2 linked regions of the Homo sapiens genome follow. The protein of the gene in region 2 interacts with the protein of the main gene of each other region in a biochemical or structural test. Each region holds a gene or a part of one and is shown on either strand. Other genes may lie near its edges. The genes, in order: LHX4 and IFT172.

Evidence for each region.
Region 1: the proteins of IFT172 (region 2) and LHX4 form a complex in vitro, tested with the Homo sapiens proteins (one study listed by BioGRID).

Annotation. Positions count from the first base shown.
Region 1 is NC_000001.11:180,271,472-180,275,285, reverse strand, and holds part of LHX4 (LIM/homeobox protein Lhx4), read right to left. Parts: coding exon 3,752-3,814; exon of another isoform or gene 3,452-3,751; coding exon 3,280-3,451; exon of another isoform or gene 1,102-3,279; coding exon 707-1,101; 3' UTR 1-706. UniProt on the Homo sapiens protein: May play a critical role in the development of respiratory control mechanisms and in the normal growth and maturation of the lung. Binds preferentially to methylated DNA.
Region 2 is NC_000002.12:27,479,430-27,483,243, forward strand, and holds part of IFT172 (intraflagellar transport protein 172 homolog), read right to left. Parts: intron 1,832-3,814; coding exon 1,617-1,831; intron 721-1,616; coding exon 597-720; intron 176-596; coding exon 80-175; intron 1-79. UniProt on the Homo sapiens protein: Required for the maintenance and formation of cilia. Plays an indirect role in hedgehog (Hh) signaling, cilia being required for all activity of the hedgehog pathway.

The sequences.
Region 1 (3,814 bases), on a different chromosome or scaffold from region 2:
AGCCTCAGTCACCTGCAATGAAAACCACCTCTTGCCATCAGAGTCAATGATATAGATGGGACACTTAAAAACCAAAACAGGTTCATATTCTCTGGTTTGTAGGAAAGAATTCATATCTTCACAGCAAAAATAAAAAAGGAGGGGGCATGTTTTTAATATCAAACTGGCCATCAAAGTGTTCACTGACCTTTAATAACTGATCTTTTCATTTTGAAATATAGGGTTCAATAAGGATGGTCCAGAAATCACTTTTATTTTACTCAAGGGCTGTGAGGCCTCTACCTTAGGAGTCTCAGTTCTGGTGAGAGCAGTGTTTTGGGAGGCATTGTGTGAGACACACCAGTTGGAGCAAAGTTCCCAAAGGCCAAGGGGGCCTATCACAGTCACCTTGTGCTACCAAAGCACTGAGCAGCCAAGCCCCTAAGCAGAACAGCAGGGGAGAGACCCAACAAGCCAGTGTCCCTAGAGCTCTAGGCCATTACCCCCTGTGCTGTGTTCTGAGATGAGTCTGCTCTCCCACTGCTTCCCCAGGGAAACAATGCCCTAGTGTGGTCTCACAGCCTTCTAGGAATCAGCGGAGGACTTCCATTGAAAATAATGGAAATTCACATTGGCGTACTTTCGATCCTTAAAAGGCAAGTCTCTTTTGATCCTTGAAGATATTCTCTCAAGCCAGGGGGGCAGGTAGGGTGGGGAGGAGAGAAGTTTAAAAAGGAGGATGATCCATTTCATCGAGCCAAGAGCCTGGGCTAGTTGGAAAGTCGGGATAGCCTACACTGCTTCCTGTGGAGATGTCAGAGGTGGGTCCCCCAGCCATGGCTCTCAGCGTCTGGCTTACTCCCTGCCCTGCATGCGCAATGATGCCCAAATTACTGTCCACCGTGTAATCCAGCCCATTGAGCAAAGGAGCGTGGGATGGCAGGGACGATATGGAGGATGGAGACTGGGGGATTCCATAGGGGCTCCCATCCCTCAAGTCCTGATAGGATTGTCCTGTCCCGTCCATGGAGAAGCTCCCATTCATTAACTGTCCGCCTGTAACGTCCCCCACGTTGCCATAAATCCTATTGGTGTGGCCAAGTTCTGAGAGAATTTGATCCTCTGTGGACAAAAGAACGGAGATTTATTGTCAGCTGCCAGGACTCTGATGGTCCCCTGCTCTTCACAACCTAGGAACACACATGACCAGGAAAGATGCCCAAGGATGGCAGCTGCCTTGCAGCCAAGCATGGGTCAGACACACCAATATGGCAGCCTGATATCCAGAGGCCAACCCAGGCCAAGGAGAAAAACAAGAAACACCTGCAAAGACTAAATTCCCAGGTCCCAGAAGGATGGACAAATGTTTGGTGAGCTCGTTGGTCCCTTGTGGCTCGTGTACTAATACTCTGGCTACACTGAGGAGGATGAATGCCTAAGGCTGGGTGGGTCAGATGTCTCCACATCACAAATGGAAACTACATGCTGACAACATTTACCCTGAAAGCTTTCAAGCTGAGAAAGGGCTTGGTTTAGTTGATTGGGAAGCAAGCAGGCCCATATGGTCAGGGAAGCTGAGGACCACTCTTAGACATCTGTACAAAATCCTTCTGGTCTATCTGGAAGAGAGGTTCAATATCAAAGGACTTGGTTTCTGTCTGTATTCAATAAGCTCTTCACTGGGGACAAAGAATTGACTTGATTAAGGCAAATGAACCTTCTTTTTTCTTAAAGAATTTCATTAAGGGGATCTAATGGAATCTTTGCCACTTGAAAGAATTTCTCTCTCCAACAGAGGTGAGCAGTTTTAGTCTTTGAGAAATTATTCCCAGAGAAACCAATGATAGGTCAGCCCAGGGACCCACCTGCACCCAACAGAAATGAGCTTAACAATCCAGTATGTTCTAGGTGTTGACTTCAACAGCCCAGATGAGATTGACTTTCCCAATCCTGCCAAGAAGCCTAAAAGGTGAGTATTAGTCCCATGAGCTGTCCCCAAGGCCTCACGGGCCCTGTGTTCTCAGAGGAGGCTGCCCTCTAGGGCTCAGCTGACCTCTGGGCTGAACTAGAGTCCTCCCAGGGCATCGTTGTCCTGGCAGGCAACTTGTTCCATCCTCTGTCCCACAAACTTCCTTTTCTATTTCCACCTGGGCCTCTGCACCAATCCCTAAATAAGGCCTCCCCAGACTAGACTTCAACACCCCATCCCTTCTGAGGCCTGCCCCCCATTCCCCTTATGAAAAAACATGGTGGGGGGAGCTCATGCTCTTTAAAGGGAGCAGGAAGATGAAGGCTCCACTCCATTGTCAAATGGCCATGAGTTAGCCTTTTCCCTATACCTGTCATCCCAAATGACCAGGGCCCTCTGCGGGAGCCACACGCTCCCTGTGGGAACGATCATGCCTTCCAGGTATACAAATGTGCCAGGCTTTCCCCAAGCACATCCACAGTTGGTTGTGTTCATTGATCCCCACAACGCAGTGAGATGGGCAAAGATATGGTATTCCTCTTGGGAATACTGGGGCTCAAGAGAAGTGAATCGATTTGACAGAGCTGCACTGGAAACCAGGTCTCTGATCGCCAGTTGAGTACTCTTCCCTTTCCCCCTCCGCAGAAGACCTTCCACATTTGAGAACTCAGTACCTGAGAACAGTTATGATTCTTTGCAAACAACCTGAGGATTCATAACATGCAGTAATTTACAATTTTGCTGATGCATGAATTTGAATATAGTGCATGCTGCAAAGCTTGTGTGCAGGGGACAGAATGAAGTGAGTGGTGGGGAAAGGGATTTCGGAAGTGAAGCCAGTTCCCCATCTCACATGCACTCACAGTACTGATTTCCCAGGAAAAAACCTGTGGAGCATGACCTCCCCACCACCAGGACTGGAGGAAGGGGTGGCTCTAGGGGACTATGGGAGTAGGCCAGTGTCCCAGCAAAGGGGACAAAGATGGGAGAGGGGCTAGGGGCACAAGGCTGGAACCCAGTCATCTGTTCATAGCTGTGTGGGCTGATGAGGGAGGCCCCAGTCAGCAGGAGGGGAGGGGAGACCTTGGGGCCACAGGACGGGGCCTGGCCCATCCCAGCTTCCAGACCTCAGCAATCTTGTTTCCTACTCCTGTCCCATGGTAAAGGGCCACTACCATTTCCCCCACCCTTCACTGCAAGTCTTAAGGAAAAGCCTGTGTTCAGGAGGGAGTTGCCAAGGCCTCAAGAAAGATCCCTCCTGAGTGCCAGGGATTACAGATTCCCAGGGGACTTTCCTAAGGCCTCGGCCTGGCCCCTCCAGCCCTGCTCACCTCGGAAGCTCAGCTCACTGTCACTAACCCCACAGTCCTCTGCAGAGCTCTCCTTCTCCTGCTTGCTGCTGCCCCGGCTCCTCTTGACGCTCTTATAGAACTGCCCCCAGCGGTGCCGCCCTGCATCCTTCTTCAGGCGTTTCTCTTTGGCCCTTCTGTTCTGAAACCAAACCTGCCACACAAGCACAAGGGACATACTCAGGGGGCGTCCACCACAAACCCAAAGCCCCCAGGACCCCCTAGGCGGGCGGCTGGAAGCAGACTGAAGCCTGAATGGAGCACAGGTCTGGGAGTGCGATGCGCCCCACCCCCTCTCCCCAGGTGGGCCTCAGAACTCTGTCTTCAGTTCTGGCAAAAGCCCTGGGGTCAAGCCCTGAGCCCAACCACCCGTGAGCTGATGTCACTCAGGATACCTTCCACCCCTGTCCCGGGCCTGGGATCCCCGGAGGGCACAGGAGTGCTGGCATCTCACCTGTACGACCCTCATGTCCAGGCCTGTCTCTGAGGACAGCTGCTCCCTCACGTGCCGGGCAGG
Region 2 (3,814 bases):
TGGCCAGAAGGCAGGGAAATGTTATAAGGAGGAATGAGCCACGCAAGTTCTCAGTGCAGTAGGCTACCATCCTGCTTACCTGGCTAGGTCCCACATACGTCAACTCAAACTTGTTCTTGTAAATACTCCTTCGGAGGCAGCAGTCAAACTGTTCCACCCCACCACATAGTGTGCCCTAGAAGGGAAAGTGACAGCATAAAAGGTCACACACATAGTACACTGGCATGGGGAGAGTATCTAGAGACATCCTCAAAACCTAAGCTCTAGAGTCTAGAGAAGAGTTGGCAGTGAAAGAGCTGGCAGTTTTTGGAATTACCAAAAGGAAAGAGGCTACAATCATTGGACTCAAGGGCACAACATATTAATGGGATAAAAGGGAAAAACTAGCCCTGCCTACACACAATTTTTTGTCCCTTTTGTGACCTAGGGTAAAGTATGAATTTCTCTTTCCTGCCTTTAATGCCAGAATTTTAGGTCAGGGTCAAAAGGAAAGAGGAGATTCTATAGTGTCAGGGAACAGTGCTTTAGGATAAGGCAGGATTTTTTTCTAGTTTGGTGAAAGTCACCAATCCAGAAAGGGATTACTAGTAACACACCACACAGAGCCGTGAGCCATCCCGCTTCCAGGCCAAGGCAGTGATGGTGTATAAATTGGTAATCTCCTTGGGCTTTGCCTCTTCCCAGATGCTTCTTCGAGGGATCCAGTTGAACACCCGAAGCCTGAAATAAAGTATGTGGCTTTTAGAAGAGATTGAGGCTGAGCTAAAGAGTGCAAATGGGCTGATAACCAAAGGAAATTAGTCTTGCTATATCAGAAAAGAAAGGAAATAAAAAGAACAGACAAGCTAGGCAGTCTAGCAGAAGAGGATATAAAGGTGCACAGGAAATAAGCTGGGAAAATCAAGGCAAAACTAAAACAGAATAAGAGTGAGGGGAGCAGAGAAAACAAAAAGACCAGGGCAGGTGAGAAAAATAAGCTACTAGGAGCAAAAAAATATGGAACAAGGAGATAAATGGTAGGAGTCAGTGAAGAAAGAAGAGAATACAAGGAGACATAAGATTGAAGGGGATAGAAAGACAGGACTGATAAAGCTGGGGTTAAACACATGCCAGAGAAATGATGAGACCTGGAACATGGCTGTTTATCTGCTGTTCCATCATTCATTCATTCATTCGCCAAACATCTGAGCATATCTTAAATATATATAGCATATAGATGCTAATCTAGGCACTGAAAAGATGAATAATAAGCCCCCTTCTCAAGGACTCTGATTTAGCCATCTATCTGGCTAAACAACAGTAGTTTGCAAACAACAAACTGTAATATAATGTGAGAAACTCTAAGCGGTCTCAAAGGGGGCAATGGAAACAGAAAATAGAGATGAATTCTGCTGTGGAAGTGCAGGGAGCGGCACAGAGACAAAACAAGAGCCCAGGACATTTTGGAACTGCCAGCACACCAATGGATAGCGGGAGCAGGAAGAGGAAAGCGCATGAATTACATACATACATTTGATTCTGCTCCAGTCTCGCACTCTGGCTCAGAATAATTTGGCTAAAGCAGAGAGTGTTCGCAGGGAAAGTAGGCAGTAGATAAAACTGGAAAGGGGACTTACCTGTCATAACTTCCTAGCACAACAGACTGGCCCCCAGGACTTGATACAGCTGTGGTGAACTCCCGCTCCTGAGGGTCACGGCTATAATCAAAAGTTTGTAGCATGTGACCTTCTTTTCCATAGGCTACAATTTTCCGATCACAGCCTGCAGCCACGATGCTATTGGTTGCCCATGCCAAGGCATAGGGTGGACACGGGTGGTTAACCAACTTCCCCTAAGACAGAAGTAGAGGGTTTCAATCACTCTTCGAAGACTCCACCCGAGAAATTCCTCACTCTCAACACCTGGTACATTCACTCTGACCATCATACCCTGCAGAAATCTCTTCCAACATTTCCCTATCCCAACACATCCTAATCCTGAACTCTTCACAAATTGTCACACACACACACACACACACACACACATACACACACACACACACCCCTATACACATAGGGGTTGACCTTGTGCTCTAGAAAAACCTCAAAATGCTTGTATATTGGAATTTTCTTTTTTCTTTTTTTTTTTTTTGAGACAGAGTCTCACTCTGCCGCCCAGGCTGGAGTGCAGTGGCACAATCTCATCGCTGCAACCTCCGCCTCCCCAGGTTCAAGCGATTCTCCTGTCTCAGCCTCCTGAGTAGCTGGGATTACAGGTGTGTGCCACCATACCAGGCTAATTTTTCTGTTTTTAGTAGAGATGGGGTTTCACCATGTTGGTCAGGCTGGTCTCGAACTCCTGACCTTGTGATCAGCCCGTCTCAGCCTCCCAAAGTGCTGGGATCACAGGCGTGAGCCACCACGCCCAGCATGTATTGGAAATTTTTAATATGCACCTGGTAAAGCTCCTCAGAAAAGGAGATGTGCTACACATTAACCAACACCGTCTGGGCCCACAAAGAGCATAGGGCTTCTTTTTTTAAGGAGGGTCAAATTTCAGTATTATACGAATAATTCTTCTTTTTTTTTTTTTTTAGATGGAGTCTCACTCTGTCGCCGGGGCTGCAGTGCAGTGGCGCGTTCTCACCTCACTGCAACCTCCCCTCCCGGGTTCAAGCAATTCTCCTGCCTCAGCCTTCCGAGTAGCTGGGATTCCGGGCACGTTCCACCATGCCCGGCTAATTTTTATATTTTTAGTAGAGACGGGGTTTCACCATGTTGGCCAGGCTGGTCCTGAACTCCTGACCTCAGGTCATCCACCCGCCTTGACCTCCCAAAGTGCTGGGATTACAGGAGTGAGACACTGTGCCCGGCCTATACAAGTAATTCTTTTTTTTTTTGAGATGGCATTTCACTCTTGTTGCCCAGTCTGGAGTTCAATGGCATGCGATCTTGGCTCACTGCAACCTCTGCCTCCCAGGTTCAAGCGATTCTCCTGCCTCAGCCTCCCAGAAAGCTGGGATTACAGGCATGTGCCACCACGCCCAGCTAATTTTTTTGTATTTAGTAGAGACGGGTTTCACGTCAGGCTGGTTTCCAACTCCTGACCTCAGGTGATCCACCCGCCTCGGCCTCCCAAAGTGCTGGGATTACAGGCACGGCTCACAAGTAATTCTTAATGTAAATGATTCAAACAACACACAATTATATAGAGTAAAACATGAAAGTTTCCTTTTTATCCCCCATCTTTTTCCTTTCCCCTTTCCAGAGTAAACTATTAACTCTTTTTTCTATGAATCTACATACATAAATATATATATTTTACATAAATGGGAATAATTTTCACTTTTCATTACTCTAAGAGTTTTTATTTCCCTTTGTCTCAAGGTCCCTTTCACCTAATTCATCCCTTCTTATAAGCAGTAAGCTCCAGGCTCCTAAACACAAATCCTCTCAGTGGCCACATCCAACTTTTTCTCTGTCCCTGAGTTCTCCTCTAGCTTCCTCTCTTAGTATCTCAATCCAAATGCCTTAGAAGTCCAACCTCCTCTAGGAGGGCTCCTGGAATTTCCTTATCCCCTATTCCACAGCATCTTTTTTTTTTTTTTTTTTTGAGACACGGTCTTGTTCTGTCACCCAGGCTGTAGTGCAGTGGTGCTATTTCAGCTCACTTGCAGGCTCAACCTCCTGGGCTCAAGTGATCTTTCCACTTCGGCTTCCTGAGTAGCTGGGACTACAGGCCCATGCCACCATGCCCGACTAATTTTTGTATTTATTTTTTGTTTTTTTGGTAGAGACAGGGTTTCACTGTGTTGCCCATGCTGGTCTCAAACTCC